Linked DNA regions of Homo sapiens: regions 1, 3 and 4 are each reported to be linked to region 2. The links are microRNA targets in miRTarBase. Many come from high-throughput screens and were not tested one by one. Region 2 holds a microRNA gene; each other region holds the end of a gene's coding sequence.

Region 1 (7,438 bases), not on the chromosome of region 2:
TCAGAGGCCTCGGCAATTCTTGTCAACCATGTGCACAGGCACTTGGGTCCCCCACCTGGCGCTGATCTATAGAACAGCAGAAGGCGGCTTCGCAGTACAGAGAGCCTCTGTCTCCTTTTATCCCCCGCCCAGGTACAGCTGCCTAAGAATCTGGGTTTGTGTGGTATGGGCCTGTCTGCTTGCTTGTTTCCTCCACAAAGGTGCCATTCCATTTGGAAACATCCTATGTCCCCTTATTTGCTTTGATTCACAATGAATAGTTGTGACTAAACAAGCACGGGATTATTTTAATAGTTAATTAACTTGCTGATGTTAAACTGCAGGTTTTACTGGTACTCAAGGGAGCACAATGGGTTTGTGCTGTGCTCTAGGTCCAGACAGCTCTTCAGGATAGGGCTGAAGGATGGGAGAAGATCAGATGTCACAGGATAAAGCCCTAAAGCCCTAACTGTGTGTTGATCACAGGCAATGAATTAGGGTCTTTCCACTGGGACTCTGCTGCTATGGGATTGCAGAGCCCTGACTGAGTTAGCATTCTCAGAGCACAACTTACTGCTAAAGACCTGTGCCTTTCCAAAGGAAAACCTCATGTTTAAAATTAAATTAAATTTTCAAAGGTTAGGGTTGGGAGAGGGGGGTGGGAGCTGTAGAAGGAAGGAGGAAGAGGGGCTGTAAGTTCACAGCTGTCAGAGGAATCTTAGCTCAACCAGGAGACTGGGTGCTTCAGCTCAGTGCTTGGCTGCTGGACCCCAGGATTGAGGACACCTGCACCCCTCCCTGCCGAGAGCAGAGCAGTCCTCACCTAGAGTCTCCTACCCTTAGATTTAGCTTGCCTGTTGCTCTTGGAATCTAACTTCTGGCCTCCGATTTGAAAAGAAAAATCTGGGCCCTCAGGCAAGTTCTCCTAGGAGCCAACTCTGAATCATGCAGACAGTTAAGTGAAGAAAGCCAGACGTCATGCCGAGCTCCAGGTCTGCCCCTGCTACCTCCAGCTGGTGCCTCCCAGAGCCGACCCCTGAGAGACTGCAAAGTGTTCAGAGATCACGCCTGTCTCCCTTCCCTCATGCCTTGCCAAGCTGGAGGAAGTCATTACCATTGTAACTACTATGTGGGCAGGGCTGGGCTCATAAAAAATGGCCAGCACACAGAGCTTGGAGGGGATCAGCTCTACAAATTAAAAATAAATTAATAAATGCATCCCTATCTTTTTCCTTCATGGAGATAAAGTGGGTTTCATTAAACAAGAACTAGGTTCTGGCGGGGAGGGAGTTGTGGCTGAGGAGAAGATATGTTTGTTGGTGTTTCTGTTGGGGGAGGCCCCCTCCTGTCAGGTTTGGAGTAAGTTGAGAAATAAAAGAGGACAGAGGTCAAAAGATAGATACTGGAGGCTATGGCTTAGCGTGAGAGTCCAAGGACGTGCTGAAAAACCCACAGGCGTGCAGAGCCAGGCAGGCCGGGTGCTGCCCTTGGAGGAGCAGATGGAAATAAATCCTCTCTGGGGCAGCTCCTTTCAAGAGAAAAAGGGAGGGCAAAGCTGGGCGGAGATGCCCAGCAATTCCTCCCAAATTTACCAATCGAGCATGTCACTTCACTCCCAGGGGCGGGGTAGACAAAGAGGAAGGGTCCTTCTGGAAGCACCAGGAATGGGAAAAGCCTTGCAGTCCCCCAACTCCTACCCCACCCCCTCCCCTCCTCTCCACAAGTGACAGGCCTTCCTGGAAGAGAATTCTGTACGTGCTCCAGAGTAAGCAGAAAGGAAAGGTCACCGGGGTCGGAGTGGGAGCCCAGGCTGCTGAGCCTCCCTCCTCCAGCACATCAGGGTAGCAGGAGAGCACCCTAACTGAGAGGCAGAAACCCATGGGTTACCCTCTGCCTTGAACATACCCTGCTCTTCCCTGACCTCAGATGGAGGCACAGCTGTCTTCCCGTGGTGTATGAACAAACACTTACGTCCACGGCTTCTTCCCCAAGATAGGATGGGCTCTTGCAGCAAACCTAAGAACACAGAGTGGCCTGAAGAACACGAAGTGGCTCAGAAGGCTCCAGGGAACATTATGGGAACCAACCGGGTGCTGCCAGGGCCCAGCTCATTCTCATAAATGCAGGAGGGCCACTTGCTTTACAAATGCTGAGTGAGCCTCTCCAGGGCGCCTGGAGCCAGGAGGTCAGGGACCAAGTCAGCATCATCCACCACCCTCTCCCCAGTCCCGGGCCCAGGGCCGGGCACACAGTGGGCTCTCAGGCAGCGGCGTTTGATTGCCACATGTACTGTCCTAAGTGCTGGCAATGCCATGGTGAATGAGGCAGCAGTGTTCCTGGAGATTCCACTGGGCTCTTCCCCGGGACAGGTGAGTGCTGTGTGTCACAGTGGCAGTGAGGCTGCAGGCAGGTGAATCGACACTGCCCAGCACGCAGTAGTGGGAAGGGTGTAAGCTCATGCAGCTGCCACCAGCCACCACTCACCTGTCCTCTTGCTTCCTAGGAAAACTCTCCCTGGAAGAGTTCATCCGAGGAGCCAAAAGCGACCCGTCCATTGTGCGCCTCCTGCAGTGCGACCCGAGCAGTGCCGGCCAGTTCTGAGCCCTGCGCCCACCAATCGAATTGTAGAGCTGCTTGTGTTCCCTTTTGATTCTTCTTTTTAACAATTTTTTTTTTTTTTTGCCAAACAATATCAATGGTGATGCCGTCCCCTGTGCGGTCTGATGCGCCTTCCTCCGTGACGCCTTCAGCTTCTTTTGTCGTGGATGCTTCGTGGGAATGCCCAGAGCCCCAGTGTGCTTGTGGAGAGCATGGACAGACTTCGTGGTGTTCATTGTTTGATGATTTTTAATCGTTACTATTATTTTTTTTTATTCTAATGTCTCTGTTCTAAAACGTAAGACTCGGGGGTTGGGGCAAAAGAAGGGAAACCCATCCAGTCCTGTGATTCTATTGCAAGCTTCAAGGGGCTTTTGTTTGAAAGACAAAACTCCCCACCTGAATCTGTTGTCACACGTGCCGTAGGGGTGATGGATGGCACCGGATGCTGGATTCCCCAAGAACAAGTTACCCTCTGGGGTGAGGCTATTCCAGCGAGCTGGGACATTTCCCCATGGGGGCCCACTCCCCTCTCTTCCCCAGCAGGCTGTAGTTTCTAAGCTGTGAACATTTCAAGATAAATTAACAGAGGAGAGGAAAAAGATGGCTCAGCTATTTTTTCACAGGTTTACACTAGTTGAGCTAATATGCGTGTCTTTGGAAATTAAACACAAATGGTAACATATTCCAAAACCAGACCCATCTTGTTGCCTATTGTGATAAAATAAAAAGACGGCTGTATATAACATATTGGGTAATGCAGACCAAATTAAGTGTTTTGCCTTGTTTAAATGAAATGCATGTTTAGTGAGCACTAATACAATCTTATTCCAGAAGACTGTTTTTAGTAGCTTATTGTGAAGTAAGACAACTATAATGAATGTCTGTCTTGTTTGGAAGTCATATCTGTCTTTGCACAAATGTACCAATCGACAAGTATATTTTATATATTCCATAAAAATACAAAGTAACCCTGACTAGGGCCCAACTTTAATTTTGAATGCATTTCCAGAGTGGCCATGCCTAGAGGGCAGATGCAGAGCAGGTGGTAGTGGGACAGGACAATTGGAGCACAGGAATGTTAACATGTATGACAGGGGACCAGTAGGGTGGTTTCCCTCTCAGGCCCAGCAGCCCATTGACAGCATTAGACTGGCGGCATGGTGCTTTTCTGAGCAGATCAATACTCTGCAGACTCGAAAAAACATCACATACATTCTTGGAACTTCCCAGTGGTTTAATCTATGTGCATGGTTAGGGAGCCAGGTCTGGAATATTCAGTTTCCCTGCCCCTGTTAAAGAATCAGAGGTTGGGCAGTCATCAAATTCATCATAAAGACATGGGCAAGTGTGTCTGTGGTTTCCAAGGCCCCCCTATGGAGAATCCAAAAGTATTTTCCATTGCCGTGCTCTTTGAATGCAGACTTCTATTTCCAGAAGTGACAGCACAAGTCTGAGTTGCTGTTTGGTCTGGTGACCTCAGACACACTAATTTGAATTGAAAGCTAAGAGTAAAAATTTGCTGGTTACAGGCGAGTCATACTCTTGCAAGTAGTTAGCAAAGGGAGGCCCAAATTCTCAAGGTTGTTGATGGGGAACTTGCCACTAAGAGAAGGCAGAGAGGTCCCTAGTGGGTATATTTGCTGCCAAGCCACTTGCCAAAGAAGAGGAACCACAGAAAGAGAGACATCATGACCAGGAGAAAAATGTGACTAGACATGCTAACCTCCAGGTTTTTATATATGACTTGAGTCTGCTGTAATTGGCAGCAGAAATCCAAATTTGTATGGTAGACCAAAAAGAACCAAATCCATAGGGTGAAATTTTGAGACCTAGACTCTGTAAAAATAATCCTAGTCTTCCTCCAGGGGTCAGTTCCTCACAGTGGTTCTGTACCAAAACTTGCCAAATTCCTCCATGGCCAAGTGTTAAAATCTGTGTTTGGAAAATAGCGAATTAACCTAAGACACAGAAGGCAGACTGGGTGAGGAGACCTAGCATGCCCTATTGGCAGTGCTCAGGAGCTGCATCCCACTTTTCCCTGCTCTGAATCGAAGTCCTAGTTCCTTCCTTTGATTCTCCTTTGGTAGGTGGAATCAGTTAATGTTTTGAGAAACCTGCCTGGGCTCTGCCCTTAGTCATGACATCTCGCTGAGCCAGACCCACTCTGTTCCTTGGAACCTAGAGCTGGAGTGAGGAGTAGAGGTCTCCGGCTATTCCAGAAAGAAAAGTGAGCCACATGCAGGCTGATGAATGCCGACACTTCCAGAATGTATAGAAATAGTCCCTGTCCTGGCCTGCCACTGACCCTGTCTGTATTTTCTCGGAGGTTGTTTTTCTCCTTCTCCTTCCCAGGAAGGTCTTTGTATGTCGAATCCAGTGCACTCAAGTTTGGCCAAGGGACTCCACAGCACCCAGAAGACTGCATGCCTCAAGGTTTATGTCACTCCTCTGCTGGGCTGTTCATTGTCATTGCTGTGTTCAGGGACCTTTGGAAATAAAACCTGTTCTGTCCCAAATAAAACCAGCCTGTGATGTTCAAGGGACTGGAATAAAGTGGCTTACGACCTGAAGGATTCTACAGAGTGCTCAACTGTTCATACATCATTCAGAGTGGGAGGGAGCTGGGGGTGCTGTCCCATCCCATCTGTATGCCCACGGTGGATTTAATAATATATAATTTATAAATCATAGCCTATGGAGTGGCCCGTAAATCAGTTGACTGTGTAGCTCTTGCCTGGCATTAAAGCATGTTTTTGGTTTAACATGATTTTCATGAGATTTTCATGCCTAAACTGCTGCCCCAGCTGAATCTGTGCCTTACTGAGGCTCTAGCTTCTGATACTAGCCTCCTCCTGGGTATTTTTCCTGCCTAGAGTGACACAAGGAACCAAGGTTTGTGAGGGGGGATGAGAGAGGCTGCTGACCCCAAAGTTCTGTCCAAAGGCATCCTTGGTCTTCATATGGGCTTCCTTACATCCCTCCCTCCATGGTCTACACTTCCTTCCCATATCCTCTCCTTCCTCAAACTAGAGTCCAAATGTTAGGTACAATAAAGGGAGAAACTGAGGCAACCTCCCCTTCAATGGGATCTGGGTAAGCTTCAGGAAATAAATAACCTCTTCACCCCTCTCAGCCTGAGAAGGTTCAGTGAAAAAGATGACATGAGGCAGAGCCTACACTCTGAAAGCCAGTTCCAATCATGGTGTTGGCTGTTGCTGTCATTGGCCTTGCCTCCAGCACAGGAGGCCGTTACTGTAGAGAAAAGGAGCTGCCATCTTGCTAACTTGAGTGTTAGCTGTGGGAGAACTTCACGGGCCAACTAGACCATGTGTGGGGGCAGAGTTGCCCTCGAGGGAGTCTTCCTACTGCACACAGTTGGCCACTATGGACCAGTGATGGCCCTGACACCATGAGTCCTGAGCATGAATAACACAAGTCTGATCCTGAGAAGGTGGCTGGGCGTCTCCAATCTCATCAGGAGCCTGCCTACCAGCAACCTGGGAATTTTCAGCAAATTTCCAAACCTGAGGCTCCTATTTTCAGGACATTGTTCTGCTGCCCCAACCCAACTGAGTCCCCACACATCCTAGTTCGGTACCCACCAGCTGAGGAAGAGTCCAAGTGTTCTCTCAGTCAAGGTAGAAAGGAGAGCATAAGAACTGCCTTTGAAAGAATGGACCTCCTTCCCTTTTTTTTTTTTTTTTTTTTTGCTTTGGTGGTTCTCTCTTTTTTTTTTATTTATTTATTATTATACTTTAAGTTTTAGGGTACATGTGTACATTGTGCAGGTTAGTTACATATGTATACATGTGCCATGCTGGTGCGCTGCACCCACTAACTCGTCATCTAGCATTAGGTATATCTCCCAATGCTATCCCTTCCCCCTCCCCCCACCCCACCACAGTCCCCAGAGTGTGATATTCCCCTTCCTGTGTCCATGTGGTCTCATTGTTCAATTCCCACCTATGAGTGAGAATATGCAGTGTTTGGTTTTTTGTTCTTGCGATAGTTTGCTGAGAATGATGGTTTCCAGTTTCATCCATGTCCCTACAAAGGACATGAACTCATCATTTTTTATGGCTGCATAGTATTCAATGGTGTATATGTGCCACATTTTCTTAATCCAGTCTATCATTGTTGGACATTTGGGTTGGTTCCAAGTCTTTGCTATTGTGAATAATGCCACAATAAACATACGTGTGCATGTGTCCTTATAGCAGCATGATTTATAGTCCATTGGGTATATACCCAGTAATGGGATGGCTGGGTCAAATGGTATTTCTAGTTCTAGATCCCTGAGGAATCGCCACACTGACTTCCACAATGGTTGAACTAGTTTACAGTCCCACCAACAGTGTAAAAGTGTTCCTATTTCTCCACATCCTCTCCAGCACCTGTTGTTTCCTGACTTCTTAATGATTGCCATTCTAACTGGTGTGAGATGGTATCTCATTGTGGTTTTGATTTGCATTTCTCTGATGGCCAGTGATGATGAGCATTTTTTCATGTGTTTTTTGGCTGCATAAATGTCTTTTTTTTTTTTTGAAAAAAATGCAGTTTTATTCTGTTTACAGAAGTAACATTGTAAGCATATGTATGAATACATAGTTAAAAAGTATAAAGACAAAAATAAGTCTACCATATATTAACAAAAAGAAAAATTATATGGTTAAATTAATAGTGAAAAAAGTAGATCTTAAGTAGAAGTGCAAAATATAAAGATGTACATTTCAAAGTCATAAAAGGGTTAAGTCCATAGCAAGCTATAAAATCACAAAGTTTTCAATACCTAATTAGCACAAAATTTAATTGTATAAAGCAAAAGTTGAAAGAACTAAAGGAGTCATATACAAATCTA
Region 2 (7,438 bases):
GCCTCAATCTCGGTGAATGTATTTGCTCCATCTGTGAAAGTGAAAATAGAATTGTATTTAGAAGGCCAACTCTGTTTAAATGTAATGCATATTATAAAAAGAAGAGGAAAACCATAACATAGGTATAATGTTATGCAAATTTCTGGTTTCTTTGGCAATTAGCCAAAATAGGAAAAGCTAATATCTGAATTTCAACTTTTACTTCTTATTTCCTCCTGGCAATTGTCAATGCTTATCTTTATCAAATGAAGAAGAAAGTGAAGGGTATGCTATTCTTGAGTACCATGGGAAAATAAAGTCTAGATATTTGTTAAGGCTATGAAAGAAAAGGATATTATCATCCTCCAAACCAGTGAAATAATGAAAAATTAGATAAATTTATTTTGTATTCTGACATCTATATATTAGGACTGTGTTAAGTCTCATCAAAGAATACAGCTAGCATTTAAAATGTTACTTGTTATTAAGAATTACATTTTATATAATTTAAAGAGAGAATATGGTTTAAAAGAGTTTATCTCTATTGTTAATAATTCTGAGTAAAATATAATACTCTTGGCTATGGTTTAATTAATGATACATTTTCCCCAGAGGTTTATTTTCCTTTTCTCTGACATTTCAAAACGAGACAAAAGAAATTCTAAAAAATCAAAATTATTTTAGAAATATTTAGTCCACAGGCTACTGATTTAAAAAAACTTTCACTTGTTAAAATGACATACATTTTTCTAAACATTGTATTTAGAAACACTTTAAAGTTCTGAACTGCTTAATAATTTTGCTTTTAATTAGAATTTTTTGCTTCTGTGTTACTAAAAAGCTCTCTGCCCTGAAACATTAGAAATAACAATTAAACTTAAAGGAAATTTTCAATTAACAGTTTGGAGGCGAGACATATACCAGAATCCCTATGAAAAGGTAAAAATAATGAATAATTCCAAAGTAATACCTGTAGTCAAAGAAAATTAATCTTCCATTGCTAAGAACCTATGTGTTTAGCTGAAGTTTTGTTTCTTATCCGTCCAGTATTGAAAAATTTATAATAGCAAAGTTATAGGAAATAAACACAATCTAATATTAACACCATTGGGTTCAATTCTATTTTCATATATTTTATTCTTTGACAATACAAATTTTCTCCATATAATGAGCCTTCTTGGTAATTTATTACTTGGCTGTCACAAGCCTGGAGCTAAAAAGTATTTAAAAAACAAAATAAGTGCTATTTAGCATGAAAATATTTGAGAATATATAGCTAAAAAAGAAATATGGCAAGATGGTAAGATTTTTTGACTACAGAGTAAATGTGAAGATAGCTACGAGGCTTAACAGTTTTTAGAATCAACTAGATATAATTTTTCATTCAACAAAGGTTAACTATTATGCACATCTTGACTAAAAAGGCGCTCTTTTAGGTCCCTTTTTAGAAACAATATAGTTTATTCAAATAAATATTAGTTCAATTTTTGAACTATTGTTTAAAAATTTTTAGCTTTTTTTTCTCTTTGTATTAAACTATTTTCTTTTTAGGAACTCTAAAGATATGACATTGGGCAAGCCACTTAGTTTCAATATCCTCATCTGAGGGAAAAGGGGGTTGAACCCCTAGTTATTGTTCACCTTCCATCCAATCTAAATTGATGTGCTTTGAAATTTTTGATGCCCACATACTAATAAAAAACAGCGGTAAAAACAGTGTTTTCTTACGTGTATAATCTTTGTGTCACATATTTAATTGTGCCAACAGAGAAAACCCATTTATTTTCAAAGACTATATTCAAAGACTATATTAAATAGACTATGCTGCAAAATCTCATATTCCATTAGAAAGCAATGTCACATTAATGTACACTCCCCCAAATTAATTTTTATAAAAAGTTAAATCATTAGCAATAACAAGCGACAATATTTCAAAAGTGATTTTCAGATTTTTCATTTCAATCCCAGTTATCTAAATTGCAAAAACAGTCGTTGAGAGGGAAGCCCTACCAAAACCTATGAATGGAGAAGGGAGAAAGGTGTAGTTCAAAGTTTCTCAATTATGGCCCTGTTGACATTTTGGGCCAGATAATTCTTTATTGTAGGGAGTTCTCTGTGCACCACGGGATGTTTGGCAGCAGCACCCCTCTGCTCTATCCACAAGATGCCAGTACCACTGCCTGCTACTCTGAAGTGGTGACAACCAAAACTGTCTCCAGATTTTGCCAAATGTCTCCTAAGGGAAGAGGAGTGGAGGAATCAGCCGTGGTTGAGAGCCACTGGGTTAGGTAGAACCGCTTTATTTTAGTGGTTTGGATCAGTGATACTCAAGAGATCAGGATAGTCACCTGGAGGGCTTTTCCAACCATACATGGCTCCAGAGATTTTAGTATGCAGCTCACACCCCCTCAATTATTTGTAATTACGTATACCTCCATTGCCCCCTCTCATCTCTGTCCAGTGTGGTGCAGTACACCAAAAAAAAGTAGAGCAATTTTTCAAAGCCTAAAATATTCTGGGTTAATCAGATGAAATCTGTGAGAGCCTTTTCCTTAATGACGGCCCCTCCAAGCCAATTTCTGAACTCATGTAATTCCTCTTGAGTTCTGCACATGCACAGCCATTTTATTGGCAACTGTAGCACCAGAACTTCACTGTCTTTCTTTACCTGTTCTGGGAGAAAACTGACAAAAGTTGTGATAATCCCTGCCCTTCTCACTATTATGAGAGAGAGGGGCAAGCAAGGCCACGGCACAGAGCAATTAAAAACACACTCTCCTCTTCCCTTTCTATAAATGCCATCCACACACCGCAAACATGCGGAGTCTCATTCTTTTATAAGCAACAATCCTTCAACTATGATCATAACTGTCTCGTCACTCTGGGTGGTGAGGTGGCCATAAGTCTGAAAAAGTGAGGCTCTTCGGTGAAGACCAGATACATGGAAACATGCTTCTCCTACCTGCCAAAATAGCTCCATGCCTCTGGCCCAAACCTTAATCAAACCCTTGGCTTTCTGCAGCAATGTTACACATAAAATGCTTTCACACACATTACCTTAAATGATCCTAAACAATCTTGTAAGTGGGATGGGGAGGTGTTTTTATTCTCATTTTATGGATGAGGAAACTCTGGCCCAGTGAGGTTATGAGACTAGTCTCAGCCAGTTATTTACTGGGGGAGCCAAGATTTGAATGCAGCTTGCTGACCTCAAAGCCAGTGCTTTTTCCATTAAATTTCACAAAAGTAGTGCTCAGCAGAGCTACAGCTTTAAAGCCATGATGGTAGTCTTTAGATTCCATGCATTTAGGACTCTTTGCAAGGCCTGGATCTTAAAAAAACAAATTCTACTCTGCTGTATTCATGCAGGTCTGACAAATAGCAGTAAGGCAGTCATCCTTCTTAGCAAGCTACCTACAACTGACAAAGCCATATATTTTTCTAATGGAAAACGTCTCCACAGACAAGGAAATAAAGTCACTTAACTTTCCAGGATTCATTAACTAAAGCTGATGTTGCTTCTGATGCTGTTGTTAATGTCCCACAAAATTAATCTAACAATACCTACTAACTCCTTGTTCACAAATCACACACTCTAAATTTGGAGTGTCCTAGAATGATGTCTCTTTTCTTGTTAGTAAAACTGCTGAGAGCCATTCCCTAGCAAGGCTGGCAAGTACAGGTTTGCTATTGGAAGATACTGGAAGGAGAAACTGCCATTAATAAAGCATGAATACTTGTCATTAGCCAGACTGGAACATTGGAAAAGTGACATTTTAGCTTAGAAGGAAGGTCTCTGAAGCTATATGGGTAGGTTTGAGGGTCTTAAAGTTGGCTTCCATTTGAAGGGGCACTCCTCCCAGCAGATTGCTACAAATCTCCTCCCAGCTGATTGCTCCCATTGGCCACCTTTCTGAATGTCAACATTAGGAAATAAGTTTAATATTTACATTTTGTGAAAGCATGACCAAGAAAAGGTAATACTAACCTCATCTATAGCTTTTTTGTAGCTCTGAAATGAGAGGAACCCAATCCAGAAGAATCCACAGAAGGAGGAAAAGCCAGCAGAAAGGCAGCAGATTAGACACAAAATTGTAATTGTTAGTACGCAACTGATAAATACAAAAGGGCGAAGAGAATGTCAATCCAGAATGATGCAAATCCCTTCATTATTACTCTCGGTATACGTCGTTACTTTAAGATGTTAAAAAAGAGTAAACCAAAAAGCTTCACGTTCATTTTACAGAAAAGATTCTCAAGAGATTTAAATAGAAAAAATGGATAGTAATTCATCCCAAATTAATTTTCAACTTTCAAATTTTAGCCTCCATACTCCTCTTTAAGGCTACCTGGGGGTCTATCATGTTACAGCAGTGAAGCTGGATGCTAAGTTGTTACGACGCCTGTTGGACCCTGCTTAAAAAGTTTGGTCCAGAAAATATAGTCCTGGAGGCATGAAAAATAGCAGAAAAACTGTAATATTAATTCATGTGGAAAATAATATGGGGAAAGAGTAGAAGAGATTAGAGAAGTTCATAGAAAGTACCCAAGTCTCTTTAACTGCTACTTTCAACATCTTTTTGCCAAAGTTGCTGAGTAGAAATTATGGAATGATAGGAGTTGTTTCTCTTCCTGTTTTATAGTTAAAGGACTGCTAATGATCAGCAAATAGCCAAAGGCAGAGGAGTCAATCCAAGATCTCTTCGGTTCTTTCCTAATCAGGTATGACTTTCTTCGGGATGTTTCTAGCATCCGTTCTTACTAATCTCAACAATTTTTGTTTGCATCATGAGTGTATCCCCAACTACTTAATCCTGTGGGTTCTCTGGTAAATTAAGAGTTCAAAACTCTTGGAGAGAAAAGCACTCACAGCTGGTCGACTGGGCCGGGTAATGTCCCTGGATTCTTCTGGTTTCACCTTCGCAGGCTCATGGGGGAGCACAGGTGATCCTTCTGACTTACTGTTGGCTAGAGGAAAAAAACAGAGGACCAAGAAAGAGATGGCCATCAAAAAGTGCTGGCTCAAGTTCTGAATGAATTATCTGTGATGTGTCATCACATTGAGATTACTCAGTGGACACGTCATTCACCTGGGCAAATCCTCAAGAAACATCCATGAAAAATATAATGTTCAGGCAAACACATTTAGGCTTGTGACCTGGAAATCACTAGTAACAATTAAAAAAAAAAGAAATGTAGCAAGTACTATCACCACTAGAGCACTTCTTATGTGTCAGGCATAGTGCTAAATGCTTTCCATGTCAATTATCTCATTTAATCCTCACTCCAACCCAATGATATGGCACTATTCTCCTATTTTACAGAACACAGATTTACAAAGATGACACAACTGTCCGGAGGTCACACTGAAATTATAGACAGAGCTGGAGTTCTGATTTCTGAAAGTCCTATTCTCAGTCACTATGCTAAATGAGCCTCTAAGGTTCTATGCTTGTTTTCTTCTTTTATCATTTGTCCAATCAGGATAGGTTATTTTGTTGAAATTTTGTGAGGGAAAAAAAATTTATTTTATTTGGTGGAACGGTTTTTAATTGGAGATGGGAGTGGTCTCAGCCCTTTAAAAATAAAAGAATGAGGTGAGGGCAAGAAGGGGGTTGTTATAGGAGAAGGGCCCTAGGCTGGAGGTACAGAGCAAGGTCAAGGGGACCCTGACAGCTGCAGAGTGAATAGCATCTTTGCAGTCTATGAGCTTACAGATAGAGAAGATGCAATTTAGGGTAGGAGAGGTGGTTTTTATTTCTTAAAAAGTAGTCTTTCTTGGACAGGGACATACCAGGGATACAACAGCCCTTTTAATCCGGAAGAACGAGGGGCTGAAGGAAATAAAAAGTAAGCCTGAACCAGACCAGAGAATTAAAATGGTATGCGTTTAAGTTTGGTTTATTTAAATATTTGCTCTAAGAATATGAAGTTGCCTATAAATAGAAAAAAGATAACAGAATGGCTGTTTTCTTTCTTTAGGTGTTTTAGAGATGGGGCTCTGTCACCTAGGCTGGAGCGCAGTGGGGCCATCATAGCTCACTGCAGCCTTGAACTCCTGAGCTTAAGCAATTCTTCTACCTCGGCCTTCCGGGTACCTAGGACTACAGGCGTAAGCCACTACATCTGGTAGTTTTCTAAATTAAGGAAATTTATATTTCGATCAAGGCAACAAAGACATACAGTAGATACTTCTGAGATGTGCCACTAATCAGAAGAATGCATATAGAGGCAGCTGTTGGCTAGTCCATATCCCAATCCAGAGACGTGAACATCAATCACATGTTAGATATCAAGCTTTTTAAAATGGAAATAGAGTGATTTATTTAAAACCCTGAAAGGGTGTTAGGAGATAAACTAAGGGTATTAGGAGGTGGTATGTAATAAAGAGTCTAAGAAAGAAAAAAGAACTGAAGGTTCTCATGAGGCTTTCATCAGACAGAGAAACTTATAAGTATGTTAATATTTGTCAAATTGCAATTAAAGTACTGGTCTTCATCACTTAGAAGCAAAATTATCTTCTGAAGAAGTTGATTCAGAAGGAGTGAATTTTAACTAGCTAGAAACAATGTATTATTATGTATCAGCACCTGGAAATAATAATGTTTTTCATAGGCCTCCCCATTACTGGAAACTAAACAATGATGAATAATTTGAATTAAATATTTAGAGAGGCTAATTTTTACTTAATAGGAATAACCAGAGGAGTCAACAATTTTTTTTTTTTTTGATGGAGTTTCATTCTTGTTGCCAAGGCTGGAGTACAATGGCGTGATCTTGGCTCACCACAACCTCTGCCTCCTGGGTTCAAGCGATTCTCCTGCCTCAGCCTCCCGAGTAGCTGGGATTACAGGCATGCACCACCACGCCAGGCTAATTTTTTGTATTTTTAGTAGCGATGGGGTTTCTCCATGTTAGTCAGGCTGATCTTGGAACTCCCGACCTTAGGTGATCTGCCTGCCTTGGCCTCCCTAAGTGCTGGGATTACAGGCGTGAGCCACCACACTCGGCCTAAATATGCTTTTTAAGTCAAAGATTTTATTCCTTCCTTCAAGTGTATTCTACATTAGTCTTTACTGAATTTCATTTTGAGAAATACATGGTATTCTGAACTGTGTATATGAACTATGTTCAGAATACTAAACAGGACAATTGGTGCAATGCGTTCAGGACATTTGTGGGTACATGAAACTCTAAAAACCGGCAATCAAACAGAAACAGAAATTCAGGTGACTGGTAAGTGACTGTATTTTCAAATAAGACTGATATTTGGTGATCTCCCTGGAAAACACTGGTATCTGAGATTAGAAAGGATTTTGTCCATACTGATGGCACACACACAATTAGGGACAGTGGCCCACTCCCGAGGAGACTGGGGTTGAGAGCAGTTGACAGGCTCTTCAGGATCACACAGTGGTGGCCATGCCTGGACTAGAGTCAGGAAGTAACTAACCTTTTT
Region 3 (7,438 bases), not on the chromosome of region 2:
CGGGGGACGCCCGGCGGCAGCAGCTCCTAGAAAGGCAGCCCCTGCTGGAAGCATGCGACACCCTGCGCCGGGGCCTGACTGCCCACGGCATCAACATCAAGGTGAGTGCCGCACCAAGGTCAGGGACATCACCCCAGGAGCCGGGTAGGTCAACAGGACGTGGGGCCATCAGAGGCCCAGACATCCCCCGTGACCATGCTTTTTTTTTGAGACGGAGTTTCACTCTTGTCACCCAGGCTGGAGTGCAATGGCGTGATCTCGGCTCACCACAACCTCTGCCTCTGCCTCCCAGGTTCAAGCGATTCTCCTGCCTCAGCCTCCTGAGTAGCTAGGATTACAGGCATGCACTCCCATGCTCGGCTGATTTTTTATTTTTAGTAGAGACAGGTTTTCTCCACGTGGGTCAGGCTGGTCTCAAACTCCCGACCTCAGGTGATCCTCCCACCTCAGCCTCCCAAAGTGCCAGGATTACAGGCGTGAGCCACTGCGCCCTGCCCATGCTTCTGAGTAGAGAAACCCACCCCCATAAAAAATGAGGTGGGAGGGCCGTGAGGGAGGGGCCAAGTTGGCTGCAGGGGACGCTGAGCACGGGGACGTGGGTCCTGCTCAGCCCCCGCCACCTCCTGCAGGTGCCTTGAAGCTCCTGGCCTTCTGCTGGAGGTAGTGGGGCCCTTTCTAAGCGCCTGGCAAGCTTTTTAGGACAGGCCGGTGAGGGAACAGGCACCCTGAACCTGATTACGCCTGTCAGCCCCCTGTGCCACATGACGTGGTGTCTGCTCAGAGTTGGACCTCACTCTTCTTCTCCAGGACAGAAGCAGTACAACATCCACGTGGGAACTGCTGGATCAAAGGACAAAAGACCAAAAATCAGCGGGCTGAGGATGGAGCACAGCCATGAACCTGCTCACGACAAGACGCACCCATGCTTCTCAGGGTCAAGGCTTTATGTTAAAGCTTCCTGTCGGGGCTGCTAGGTCAGCATTAAAGTAAGGCAACCAACAGTGTCCCACTGGCGTCTGTTTGTTAGTAACTGAGCCTAAACACTCACTGCGTTCTGTGGCTACAGACTCACCGTCGATTGAGTGAAGTAGTGTCAGACATTCAGTAGCATCCAGCAGCACACGTGCCTGTGCGTGAGACCTGCTGGCCCTGTGCCCAGGGAACAGACAACACAGCCAACAGAAGAGCAGGGACCCCGGGAGGCGGCAGAATGCAGCCTGTTTCCTCCTGAGGGAGGGGCTGGGGATGGGTGAGGTGGGTGGGCCACGCAGCATAGTCTGAAGCAGAGGTGGGACGCCAGCAATGCTAACCCCGGGACACCTCCCCCAGCAAGAACACAATCTTACGTTTTCTCTCTGGTTACAAAAGTAACGTATTCAGCATAGGAAAAATGCAGCTGAGAACCCGTCTGCAGTCCCGCTGCAGTTAACATCCTGGCAGCTGCAGGCCATCTTGGTGGTCATGGTCTGTGCAGAGCAGTGATGGGGTCGAGCTGGGCCTGGGAAAGGTTGGTTCCGGAGGAGTCAGGGCAGCCAGGCTGAAAGCCAGCTGGCGAGCTGTGACAGACAGGATTCCTGAGCGGGAGGTGGCGGCCAGCACACGGCAGGCTGCCTGGGCTACAGGACCGGTGGCCTCCTGAAGCACCCACCTTGCTCCTGATCTCACCCTTCTGTGGTAAGCCCAGCGCCACAGCTGTCAGTGACTCAGCAGGGTGACCCCTCTCCACTCTTCCTGCTCGCAGACCCTGGGCCAGGCCTCTCCCTGTCACACTGGCATCTCTGAATCCCAAGGGCACAGGCAGCAGCGGGACCCGTGACTGGGGATACGGGCTTGCTCATCATTTAACCGTGACCCTGAGGTACAGGTCTCCTGTCTACAGTTCAGAAGTCACTCACCTAGAAAATCACCCTAGTAAAGCTACCCACATAGAAAAAGTCCCCAGAGGGCTCCTTACAATGAGGCATCTCGACAGGGCTGCTCAGTACTGGGGCATTACGGGCCGCCCACCCCCCCACACTTTCCCGTTGCTCTCCTGGTCCAGGGAAGCTCCTGGGAGCGTGTCCGGCTGGAGCGAGTGCGTGAAATACGTGGGTTTGAGAAAGAACATGGAAGCAATGAGCTGCTTGTAAAAAAACCCATTCTCTCCTTTAAGCAAAGGGATGTTTTACTTAGAACAAAAACCAGACGAATAGTTCCTGTGACTGCTGAATTCTATTTCCTAAGGAAAGAAGGGGCTGCCTTGGGCTTATCCTTCAAGGTGCTTTATTGCAGCCACCACGGGAGAGGCGCTGGCGAGGAGGCCAATCTCACACAGACAGGCTTAGATATTCTTATCTCCCTGGCATCTCACACAATGTCCTCACCTAAGAAAGTTGAAAGGTGAGCTTTAGCTGTTTAAGGAAAAAAATACAATACTCAATTTAAATTAACCAGATCTGTCTTTTAATAGTTACCAGAATTTAGATGTTAATTCCCCAGAGGAAAAATGTCCATGGCACAGTTTTTCTGGAAAAGTTCACATGTAGACAGTGAAGCTTCTGAAGTTAGGCGTCAAATTAGTAGTGACAATCTTTTTTTTAATCTTGAAAGTCCCTAGTTTTAAAGAAAGTAGAATCCATCTGGGGCATGTCTGCATCACAGGGTATCACTCAAGAGTCATCATCAGGCCAAAAAGACTCTGAAGGGAACCAGGAGGGTTTGGCCCTTGCTGTGGAAAGATGCTACTGAAAGTATAAGAGAACACCCTAATGCACGCGTCAGGCACGAAACCGTACCATGCCCCGCTAAGACATGGGACCAGAGAACACGTCAACGTCAGGCCGCTCCAGGAAAACCATCCACAAAGACAACAGAAGCTAACCCGAGGTCGACACTGCCATGAAGAGTGTTGGCTGAAACCGCAGTTACCAGTGTCTTTACTGGACGCGAACATCCCTAAGGACACGGCTGTGCTGCTTCCTAAGCATACGTGACCACGATACTGTCTTTCCCCGGGTCTCCTTAGCGCCATCACTGCACCAGGCCCAGCATGCCTCAAGTCCTCCAGAGCCTTCTCCTGAGACAGCACTAGGGGCCACGTCAGACCCCAGGCTGCAGCCCTTCACCGTGCCCGTCCCCGGTCCGGTCTGCCCTGCTGGGGCCGGTGGGTATCATGGGGACCCCTGTGTAGACACGGACACCGGAGAGCGTGGGACAGGAGGCGTCTCAGAGCTCCCCACCCACACACTCAAGGGTCAGCGTCACTCATGTTTCCTTCTGTTCCCATGGTGCCTCCAAAAGGGTTTCCAAACAAAGTCATCATTGATTACCCTGGAGTATGTCAATAAGCCAAACACCAGCAGCCAGATACCACCAAGCTAGTCACCACTTTAAAAGAAGATGAGCTGGAGAACGAAGCAGCCCTCTGATGGACCCAGTCAGTGCAGTCGGGACTCAGGGAGACACCCGGGGACCCCTGCCCAGCTCCCTGCCGGAGGAAAGACTAGGGAAGGGAAGCAGAGGAGGAACGAAGGGCGCCGGCAGAGAGAGTAACAAGTAGAAACTTCGCCGATCTGGGAGCAGGCCGAGAAACTCTGTTGAGCTGCTAAAGAATTCTTCATTCTCATGTGATTTTCTTCATTTCTGTCTTCCCAGTTACTACCAAGGAGCTAAGGAAAGTTCAGGAATACTTTGTTTAGTGTCGCCATAACATCTCCAACCATGCATTAAGTTTAACCAAAAGCTGCAATATTCCAGATTCTTAAATTCTCAATGGCAACCAATTTATGCTCAAGTTGAAAATCTGGCAAGCACCGTACGCCTTCAGCACACGCGTGGGTCCGGATTTTCCCATCACACACACGCTCTCCCCCGTCCAAGGTGCCTGTTTACTTCTGGTCTGCGCGGGCTCAGGTTTCAAAGAGCTTGCTGAAGGCGGCCCCCACCTCGGCGATCATGTCGGAGGTGGTGGTGGAGCGACCGTGCTTCTGGAAGGCTTGGTGGTTGCACTGCCTGGTGAGAGAGCAGGCGCCAAACGCGGCCACCAGGAGAGGGCTGGACCTGCGGAGAGGGGGACAGCAGGAGGTGTGGGGAAGTGGGCGTCGTGGTCCGGGGGCCGCAGCTACCCTGGGCTCTGGTTTTGACTCCTGTTTCAATCTCAGGACCCCAAATTGTCAATTTCAAGTCTGATATGCCCCTGAGGAGAAAGCAGGTTTATCACAGCGAAAACCACCATTAACCCTCCACTACTCCCTGGCAGGAGGCACACAGGAAACGTCTATGTACTCGGAGACAGGTCCAGGGCTAGGGCACACAGTGGGCCAGGTGTTCCCGGGGAAAGCCAGGCGGCACAAGCTGCTTAGCCCTGTTTGACTGTGCTCTCAGTGCCCAGGTGCAGAGGGCATCTGAGGTCTGAGAATGGGGATTCCTGCTACCAGGGCTCCATCTCCTGGGGGAGGGGTGGAGGCAACTCGAGTGAACACAGCAGAATGAACAGTAAGACTCCTGCCCACACCCCTACCTCCTCGGCTCTCAAATTCATGTGGACACACCTAGTTTGGGGGATGGTCCCAGACTCTGCCATCCCGGCAATGAGGACACATGAGGCCACTGGATGACAGCCCTGCCCACCCTCCAGAAGCCCGGGTCTGCCACACCTAGCACCTGCAGCCACCACCTTGATGGGCTCACAGAAGAGAAATGGAGATGCTTAGAGGTATGGGAACTGCTTGCATTCATAAAGTTCTCTGACTACAGAACTGGGCCAAGGGCCCTGGTCCTAGAATTCTGCTGTCTCTTAAAGAAAATTCACATCTTTAAGAACAAGTGTCTAAGTAAGCCTTGACCCTGTCTGTTTTCTATCTTAGTATTCTGTGTTACACAGAATAAACCACTCAACTTCCCAGAACAGCGTGCTGCTGGGCCTTGGTTGCACCTCGGAACTCTCTGGAGAGCTCTGAAGACCACCCCTGCCCCAGGCCCCATCCACAGTGAATGATGGACAGGCCCAGGCCCAAGTGTGGGGTGGAAGCTTCTGCCAAGAGGGTTCGTCTGTGCCGAGATCTCTCCAGTGAAGCCTAGAGTTCATTGTCAGTGTTTCCAGGGCTACTTATTCAACGCATGAGCTACTGAAACAGCTTAGAAAAATCAGACGGTTTCAAAGTAGAATAAATGAAGACGTGGCCTTACCCATTTGTTTTCTGTGGTCCAGCAAGGAGCGCCCAGTGTACCAGGACGCCCAGGGAGCCCGACAGGAGGTCCCCTTGCCCTCCACACCTGCGGCTGCTGCCTTCCTGGCTGCACACAAGCACTGCACAGGGCAGAAGTGAGAGCAGGTGTCAGCATGGCCATGTGTGTGAATGTGACAGTAGCCACGGGTGTGGAAGGCCGCACGGCAGGCAGAGCCACACCCTCCAGGAGCAGCCTGAGGCTCCACTCACATCCTGCCTGCTACGGCTCTTCCCTGTTTGTTCCAAGGGTTGGAGGCAGCCTCTGTTTTACAGAAGAGGAAACCAAGACACGCAGTGGTGAGGCTGCCCCAGACCCCGCTGTGTAGCACAGCAGGTTGGTGGAGACACCTGCAGCTCGGAACCGCCTCAGACGAGCCCAAGCAGGCAGCTCTGAGCAGGGCGGCGCCAGCCTCCAGCTCCTCCCACCAGCTCCCAGGGACGGAGCCCTCACCTGCAGCCCACACTCCAGAGTTCACCTTAAACCACAGCTCAACCATACAGGGCAACACCGAGCGAGGCCTCCACCGGCCTCATAACGTCACGTATGCCTGTGTATGGGAATTCTCTATTTCTTTGAAAAATGTTTTGAAAACCAGGTGTTACATTCTCTGAACCTGTTAGACCCAAGAGAGCCTTCCAGTGATTAAAAAACCCTCATCTCAAAGGTGTCAGAGTCCCTCTGAGAACATCTGCTCTGTGTTCCTTGTGCACAGCTGTGTGTGGATGAGTGTGCGAGGGCGTGTGCGAGGCTGTGAGCATGACCATGCATGTGTATAAGTGCGAGTGTGCAAGGGCGTGCGAGGCTGTGAGCACAACTGTGCATGTGTATGAATTGCATGCGTGTGCACATATGTGCATGTGAATGTGAGTGTACAAGTGTGGATGTGCACACACCCGCCCACAGACGCCTCAGTGTTCTACCCTGATTTTGGTACCTAGTCCAGCCCCACAGCTCAGCAGGTGAGCACATTCGCTGCCCATCATCTGTCCAGGCCTGAATGGAGGGGCTTCCATTTTCAGCGCTAACAAGGGCACGGCTCCCCAGATGCCTCGCTGGCGCTGGGCCCGGCCTCTGCCCTGCTCTCACTTGGCTCTTGCTGAAGCCTCCCCAGGCTCCGTGGGAGTGGCCAGTTGAGACTCGCCACACTCAGTGCCTGAGATTCCACTACCAGCATCAGCTTCGGGGCTTTCTGCACTTTCCAGTCATTTTGATAAAAGAGAATGAAATGCAATAAAATACCCAAATAACTGCATGGATGGTGGATGCCACAGGTGAGATGAAGGTGGCAGCTGGAGACGCGGGACCCTGCACTGTGCCCTGCTGTTGCAGGCACCCTCCCGCCAGACTGCTTCTCATAACTGAGGCAAGGGAATTCAACCAACGGGTAAGGCCCACGGCTCGAAAGCCTGCCCTCACCACTGTCACCTCCCCTGGCAAAACAGTGAAAAGTCAAAACATGGACTCTGAAGAAAGTGTGGTTGACGAGCTCATCAGGAATCCCTGTGTGAATGTGTGTGAACACGGGTGTGCACGGGAGAGGTCTTCCAGGGCTCATGCTCGGTGTGGCCATGCTGACTGACCTGGCACTGGCCCATGCACAGAGGGCAGCCGCCACTCACCCTGCTGGCCGTTGGAGAGGATGTCGCGCTCTCCTTTCTGGACCACCGTCACGTTGCCCAGGGCTTGGCTGAGTCTTAGCACAGATCCATGGCTGTCATCGCTGTCCATAGGGCCTCTGAGCTATGACAACACAGGAAGACAGAGAAAAAGCAAAGTCTTCCTCAGACACACGACGACAGATAGCCCTGTCCCATCCGCCATGAGACTCATGCTCTCGTGTCTAAAGGGATCACCCAGGCACCTGTTAAAGGCCATGTAGGTGGGAGGATGCCCAGGATATCACCTGCAGTGAGTCCTCCGAGCAGGTGCTGACACGGTGCCTGCTCCAGTGCCCATCCTCTACCTCATCAGAGCAGGCTGAAGGAGGACCACCCAAGACTGGGTTCTGAGAGCTTTGCAGGAGTAATACAAATTCCAGTCGTACTGGGCACTAACATTGATGGGACACTTACCATGTGGGGACTCACGGCTTTACATAGGTTTCCTCATCTCATCCTCACAACCCCGTGAAGCTGATGCCATCATCACATTACAGATGAGGCACTCAGGACACAGACAAAGTGACCTGTCCAGAGTGCACTGCAGGAGGGGCTGACTGACCCGAGTCCCT
Region 4 (7,088 bases), not on the chromosome of region 2:
CAAGCGATTCTCCTACCTCAGCCTCTTGAGTAGCTGCAATTACAGGCATGCACCACCATGCCTGGCCAATTTTTTTTTTTTTTTTAAATTTTTAGTAGAGATGGGGTTTCACCATGTTGGCCAGGCTGATCTCAAACTCCTGACCTCAAGTGATCCACCTGCCTTGGCCTTCCAAAGTGCTGGGATTAGACATGAGCCACCACACCTGGCCTCACTTTTCATTTTCTAACGTGTGTGTGTGTGTGTGTGTGTGAGACAGACAGGGTCTCACGCTGTTGCCCAGGCTAGAGTGCAGTGGTGTGATCTTGGCTCACGGCAACCTCCCGGTTCAAGCGATTCTCCTGCCTCAGCCTCTCGAGTAACTGGGATTACAGGCGTGTGCCACTACGCCCGGCTAATTTTTGTAGGTCTAATGTCATTTCTTTCTGGGTAAGGATCTTTGCTATTTTAGGAATATAGGCAGATCTGAGTACTCAACCCCAGGTTCAAGTTGAACAGCTCCTCTTTAATCAAAGGGAGAACACAGATGTATCAAACAGAGTAGGAAAGAAATGTATCAAAAGACAGTAGGAAAGAAAGCCTTTCCTTCTTGAAAGGCTGAGGTTGAGAGGGAAAGCTAATTTATCACTACAACTCTATGGTAGCTTTCCATGCTAAATTTTCCCTGCCTCTTTTGTGATTTTTTGATATGGAAGAGTAGGGGTTATATCTTCTCTGTAACAATTAGGCCATATTTCCTTATACCAAGTAGAGGTGCTCAAACACTGTAGTGGTATTAAAGGGCTGAGGAGAGTAACTGAAGACTGGCATACAGAACTCCACCTGGAGGACAAAAGTCCGGCAGATGATTCTTGTCATCTCAGTGCCCTTAAAGTAGTCCAAAATCCTAAAATTCAAAGCCAGAAATTCCACACCCATTTAGTAAGCACCTATATATACACCATATATTCTACTACACACAGATTATATATCTAAAATGGAAGGAAATCTTTCCTCTTGTGGGAAAGAGGAAGTGGAAAGGAGGTGTACATCCCAATACATCTACCTACAACTGAGAGAAATTAACTACTATTACCACCTCCCACACCATCATCTTTCCTCTCTCTTTGCGTAGCCTGAGCTTTCAGAAGCACAACTGCAAACATCTCTAACTGGTTCACAGGAATCTATTCCTTGGTCATGTCAAACAAGATGTTATTTATAACCCACACCTCCAACCCTACCTAACTTTGAGTGGATGGGGCAACAATTACGACAGACTCTGCTAAGTTTCCACAAATCATTGGTTTATTAGAAAGTTCCTTTCCCTCATTTTACAGCATATATATCTCTATCATATGTGATAAAGTTAAATACAATCTGTTATGCTTGTAAGTAAGGTTTATTTTTATTTTTACTTTTAAAATCACTATTCTGGAAGTTAAAGAAAATGCCCCTAGGAAGGCAAAGAGGCAGCCAGAGTATGGCTCAATCTACAAGCTAATGGGAAGCAGCACGAAAATGTTAATACTGTATTATTTATTTACATGGGCTGAAAGCAAAGAAAAATGAGTCCCTTCACTTACACAGATGATTTCATTTTTCCAGTGCTAGTTATCCAAGAAGTGATGCTTCTGAATCAGATGAGTACTGAACAGGTAGGAGGGTGGGAGGGCAGTCAAGAGTTGTGTTTGCCTGCCACTTTCTTTTCATAAACTTTACTCTTTTGAGAATTTGCGAAGGCAGGAACAGAGCCTTGGCCCAGGTAAGTATGGTTTTTCTTGTCAAGTGACCAACCAACCAATTCTAGCCACACGAATAGTTAGGAAAATGCCAAAGTGGGAATTGTTAACCTCATCAAAGGAGATGGGACCTGCAACACAAGCACCTTTGGGTCAGTGTGTTAATTAGGGCTGAGAGCCTGGGTGAAAGGCAAGAAGAGGGGCAAAAGAGGCTGAGGTGGTAATTCCTCTTGTCAGTGTCATGGGAGAAAAGAAACAAGGAACGTTTACTGTCTAAACTGAGCTGGGCAGAGGGCATGGAAACTATGAAGCAAAATATCTGTAAATGTGCTCACCTCCCAACAAAAGGAAGACTGTCCCAACTCATCCTCCAGCCTACTTCTACTTCCGTTTCTACCAACCCAAAAGGCACATTAAAAAAAAAATTGTCAGAGGGGGCTAAGTACTAGGAAGGCAAATGGACTGACTGCCTGGAACAAGGTACCCAGGGAAACCCAGGAATCCCCCCAGACAATCACCAAATCTCACTGCTTCCAGACAATAAAGCTGTTGAATCCCCTCCTTCTCCTCTGTGGGGTCTACCTGTTTCTCTGTGTAAAACAGCAAAAGTACATGAGGGAGACTGTTAAAGATGAGCATCCCTCAGAAGCCCCCAGCTGACTGCTGCCCATTAGCTCAAAAATCCCAATACTGGGGGCACTACATACTGCAAATTACTTAACATTTTGTCCCAGCAAAAAATGTTTTAACATTTTATAGTTCATAACTTCAAAAAATACATAAGTTTGGTAAAATATACATGCTTAGTCAGTTTTGCATCTAGCAGAAAACAAATATTTTATTTTTTGTTTTCATTTTATAACCTTTAGAGTTTCTTAATTCAACTAGGGCAAACATATTTACACAAAGCCACCAGAACGAGGATCACTTAAAGAGCTGGATGTAAAAAATATTATTGCAGTATACTACAAATATGGAACCTTTTTTATATGAGCTACAAAAAGCAGCATTTACGTTTATAGAGTTCAGTGCAATTTTTTACATTAAAAAAATCCTATAAATTAAGAAGGAAACATCAACACAACAGAAGAAAATATACCCTTCACTTTAGACACATGAGCTCCTCTCTGGGCCATACAGCTTTTATTCATGATAGGATCTTCTTTTCTGGGATATGGAGATGCCTCTTCTGGGATGAGGGATACCAAGATAACAGTGCCAAATGTGTGGCTCCGTTGATGTGGGAACTGGATGGAATTGCAGCCTGAGTTATATCAGGTTCCAGGTGAGACGCTTTCCACCTCACCTGGGATAACGTAACGTCACCAAAGATGGTCAAAGATACTACCCCAAAATGGTGGCACTTCCACCACTAGAACAGCTTGGCCTTCCCTGTGGCGCTGAGAAGGCAAGACCAGATGGGCCCACAGCAAGTGCTCTGGTGACAACCCACTGGCCAGAGGGGAGGAAAATGTTTTAAAATTTACAGAAGGGAAGAGCAGAGGAAAAAAGCAGAGGGAGGAGGGGATTATCTAAACTTGACAGTTTGGAGATGTTGCTGCAGAGGGGTGGGTAGCACTTACTGGTGTTCCCTAGCTTAGAAACACAGAAGAGGGAGGGACAAATTGAGAGGAGGACAGGAAAAAGAAATCCCTGATAGTAAACTGAAAGCAAACTTCAAATCTAAACCCACCCCTGCAAGCCAAAACTCAATTCTTTGGCTGTCAGACACTGCCCATCCCAGCTTCTACTTGCTGGTATTAATGGCTCAACACCCCCAAGGGAACATTTATGGGTCTCCTCCCCTGGCCCTACCTAGGATCCCATCCCCCAACTCACGTGCCATGGCTGGGGGGATGTTGCAGGTCCTGACCTGAGAAGATGGGGTGAAGTAGTGGGTGAAGGTGAAGTGCAGTGGCAGCTGCTGCAGCAGGCCGTGGAGCAAGTAGGGTGGGGTAGAGGGCAGCATGTGGGACAGGGTGAAAGGTGAAGGGCCCAGGATGGATGGCTGAGGCGGGAATGATGTGGATGGGATGGCTAGCGAGAAAGGTGGCAGGGTGGCCAGGGATGATTGAGTGAGTGAGGTGGGACAAAGAAATGGGGGTCAGATGGGGCTGGGGAATATGATGCACCTGGGCAAGTGGTTGGGGATGGGGGTGAGGGTGAATGCCGATGGCGGCAGCAGCTGCGGCAGCATGATGTTGTAGGATGGCATGCTGAACAGTTGTGATGGAGGTGGCAGAGGCTGTAGCTGGCTGCTGAATGTGGATGGGTTGCAGGGCTGGTGTGGCTGGGGCCAGGGCAGCTGAGGCTGGAAAGGCCTTTACTTGCTTGGCCAGAAGCTGCTGCTGGATGTGTTGCTGAGCAGCCTGCTGGAGCTTGCTGTACTTCTCCATCTCCTCAGGGGTGAAGGTGATGGGCTGGCTTTCCAGGGGGGCCAGTGAAGCATCCTCAGCCCCATCTGTTGACTCAATACTAGGATCCCCACTGGGAGGTGCATAACTGGGGAAATGCTCAAGGTCTGGTGCTATAGGCAGCAAGCTGGACTCCACAGGGCCTGGCTGACTGCTGCTATCCAGGGACTCCAGGGTGTCCCCATCACTGGGGTCGGGGAGGTAGTTATGGGAGATGGTTGGGTCCCCAGGGTAGCAGTCAGAATGTGCTGGGGTGCCTAGTGGAGCCACAGGGTGATCAGCAGTAGCTTCTCCAGACTTTGACTCTTCTGGGGGTGGGTCTAATAAGGGGCCAGTTGTTTCCTCTGAAGGGAACTGATGCCCAAATAGGGCATCACTACTCCCTGGGGGCCCCTCTTCTGTCTCTGACTGTTCTTGCTCTTCCCCCCTTTCCAAGCCAGACTCTTCACACTTCTTATTGGGCTTTCGGGTAGCTGGGAGCTTCCCTATCAGTGGAAGGACAGGCTTATTGCCAAGAGATGGGGGGAGCTTGGGCCCAAAGTAACCTTGTGGGGGGTCCTTGAGCTTGGGCCCAGCTTTATTAGGGGTGGCCTGCACCTCCTCACTCACACTAGGTTTCCTCTCCACTTTCCTTGACTGGATCTTCTCCAGTAGCAGTTTGGCAGTGACAGAGTTCTTGTCTTCAGGACTGCAGTCACCTTCTGACCCTCTTCCTGTGCCAATGTTGCTGTTCTGGGAAGGTGGACCTGTTGCTTTACTGTCATCTCCTCTGCCATCATCTTTCTTCCCAGGACCTTCTCCCCGGCCTGATCGGAAATAGTGGGGGGACTGGGAGCGGTAGATCTTAGAACGAATGAAGTCCCGACGCCCAGAATGCCTCTCCTCAGGGCTCTCGTGACCCCATGATCTCTTCCTGGAGCCTGATCTCTGGGAAGGGCTCCTGGTGCTGCGGCTGCGGTCCCGGCTATAGCTCCGGCTCCGTTGCCAGCTGTGGGCTGTGGTGCTACGGCTTCTCCGCTTGCTTCGACTACGACTACAACTGCTGCTGCGGCTGCGGCCCCGGGATCTTGAGCGCTCTCTGGTATGACTCCGAGATCGGCTTCGGGACTGGCTGCAACTGAGGCTATAGTCATCATCAGAAGATGAATATTTGTGCCGTTTTGATCGGTGTTTGGAGCTGGCATAGTCTGAGTCATCTGAGTCATGGGAGCGCTTGGAGTGCCTTCGTGATCTGTCACTGTAGTCACTGTAGCTGTCATCAGAGTAACTGCGCTGTCTACTATAGCAGCTCTGGTCTGAAGAGGCATCTGAGCTACTTGAGTAAGAACGCCGGGAGGAACGATGCGAGGAATGGCGCCGGCCAGACCTTGAGCGGCTGCGGGAATGCTCACTGCCTGAATCTTCCTCTTCTTCTTCCTCACTGTACTGGGATGGAGACTTCTGGTGCAGCCGGTGTGAGGAAGCATCATCACTATCCTCATCTCCACTACTGGGTTGGCTCCGATGGCTAGACCGGCTGCTCCGTTTGGTGCCTGCTCTTCGCTGGCAGGATGAAGGTGGAAGTTCACCTTTGTGTTTCCTCCCACCATGGTCTTGGGAGCTGCTACCACCCCCACCTTCATCCTTTTTGCCACTGCTCCCCTCTTCAGCTGGGAGGGATCTCCGCTGGGAGTCATCTTGAGCTCTCCGCCTTCTTCTTGGTGGTGCGGGACTGCCACTCCCAGGGGGTTCTGGTTTGGGTCCTCGTTCAGAATCTGCTGGGGCTGATGACTTATTCTTCTTTCGTTTTCGTTTCTTGCGCTTCTTAGATTTCTCCCCTGACTCTGCCTTAGAGCTTTTCTCTTCTGTGTCAGCCTTGTGTTTACGTTTGTGTTTGCTGGATTTTTTGTGCTTCTTTTTCTTTTTGTGCCGGTGGGACTTCCCAGATCGTTCTTTCTTGCTGGGAAGGCTTCTCCCTGTGTCTTCTGTCTCAGACCCATGGCTACCCCCAGGCTCCTGCTTGTTCAGGCCGCTACAGGCAGACCCTGAAGCAGGTGCGTCCATTCTGCCTCCTGAGGAACGTACTATTTTCTCTCCGCCCACTTCCTTGCTTTTATTTGGCTCACCAGGATCTAGGCCTTGGAGATGGTCCTTTGAGGAGCTTCCTATATCCTTTGGTTTTTCTGTTCCTTTAGTTCTGGCATCTTTGTTCCTTGAAAGTTTAAAGTCAAAATATAAAGGGTTACAACTGTATGAAATGGAGGGTTCTGCCTTGGTGAAAATTAATAGTTCTGATGGCCACTGGAGGGCAGTGCTTTCATCTTTGCTCAAAACTGGGAAGAAGGGACCAGTAGGATGTTTGGGTCCTTCTTGGCTTTCTTTCCCTGCTGGGGTGGCCAGAGAGGTTTCTTTAGAAGAGTTGGACTCACACATTTGGGTCTCTGAAACCTTCTGACTATGACTTTCTAAACTCTGATCACTTACATCCCCTCCTAAGGCCTTCTTTGCCTCAGCTTTGCTTCCTGGTTCTGAGGGCTCGGTCATGCTGGTTTCCTTCGGCTGCTCAGAGACTTCACTAACTGTCTTTTCTGCTCCTTGGCTTGCTGCCGCCTTGATGCAGCTTTTAGGCTTGGGAGAACTGCCTTTTTTACTCTCTGGGGCATTCTTTGGGTGTGTAGTATTATCACCATCCATTTGTTCACTGGCTCTCATAAAAAGTAGAAAGGGAAAATTAGGTTTTACTTTGCAGTGTGCTGGGGGGATGTAGTGGTAATACTCAGGCTCTGTAGCCCCAGCTCCTTCTTCTCGTTTCATCCTTTTTAATTTGGATAATGTTGAGGCAAGGGACCCTCCATCCTGAGGGTCTTCATCCTCTTTTTTACCATCAAGATTACTGCTCCCATCAGAGTCTCCTACCTTCTGCAGTCCTTGGTCAGAACTCTTCTCATCGGGTTTTGTTCCATCTTCAGAGGTC

The links. The annotated mature microRNA hsa-miR-569 reads AGUUAAUGAAUCCUGGAAAGU and lies in region 2 at 3,464-3,484, opposite strand. An mRNA with a match to its seed (bases 2 to 7 or 8) in the 3' UTR can be bound and repressed. Matches are read on the target gene's strand: a 7mer-m8 pairs with bases 2 to 8, a 7mer-A1 pairs with bases 2 to 7 and ends in A, and an 8mer does both.
Region 1: the mRNA of NCALD is a reported target of hsa-miR-569. Seed matches in the 3' UTR shown: 7mer-A1 at 3,159-3,165.
Region 3: the mRNA of NAXD is a reported target of hsa-miR-569. Seed matches in the 3' UTR shown: 7mer-A1 at 2,465-2,471.
Region 4: miRTarBase lists GPATCH8 as a target of hsa-miR-569. Seed matches in the 3' UTR shown: 7mer-A1 at 1,881-1,887 and 7mer-A1 at 1,502-1,508.

Annotation. Positions count from the first base shown.
Region 1 is chr8:101,684,451-101,691,888 of GRCh38, reverse strand. NCALD (neurocalcin delta) reads left to right here. Exons shown (of 4, transcript NM_032041.3): 4 at 2,483-5,347. The coding sequence ends at 2,580. Among named protein-coding and RNA genes, the nearest start is that of NCALD, 100 kb to the left of the region's middle.
Region 2 is chr3:171,103,216-171,110,653 of GRCh38, forward strand. It overlaps MIR569 (microRNA 569), which reads right to left and starts at 3,544; the gene lies at 3,449-3,544. TNIK (TRAF2 and NCK interacting kinase) reads right to left here. Exons shown (of 33, transcript NM_015028.4): 20 at 4,850-4,947; 21 at 3,968-3,991. It overlaps LOC105374216 (a long non-coding RNA gene), which reads left to right. Exons shown (of 5, transcript XR_007096163.1): 2 at 3,979-4,160; 3 at 4,623-4,701.
Region 3 is chr13:110,634,978-110,642,415 of GRCh38, reverse strand. NAXD (NAD(P)HX dehydratase) reads right to left here. Exons shown (of 10, transcript NM_001242882.2): 8 at 6,828-6,948; 9 at 5,167-5,287; 10 at 2,420-4,038. The coding sequence ends at 3,888. It overlaps CARS2 (cysteinyl-tRNA synthetase 2, mitochondrial), which reads left to right. Exons shown (of 15, transcript NM_024537.4): 14 at 1-101; 15 at 808-999. The coding sequence ends at 879. Among named protein-coding and RNA genes, the nearest start is that of NAXD-AS1, 22 kb to the right of the region's middle. RefSeq lists enhancers at 4,876-5,704, 6,535-7,363, 7,364-7,438.
Region 4 is chr17:44,394,012-44,401,099 of GRCh38, forward strand. GPATCH8 (G-patch domain containing 8) reads right to left here. Exons shown (of 8, transcript NM_001002909.4): 8 at 1,270-7,088. The coding sequence ends at 3,557. Among named protein-coding and RNA genes, the nearest start is that of ITGA2B, 7.9 kb to the left of the region's middle. RefSeq lists an enhancer at 3,469-3,969 and a silencer at 6,181-6,644.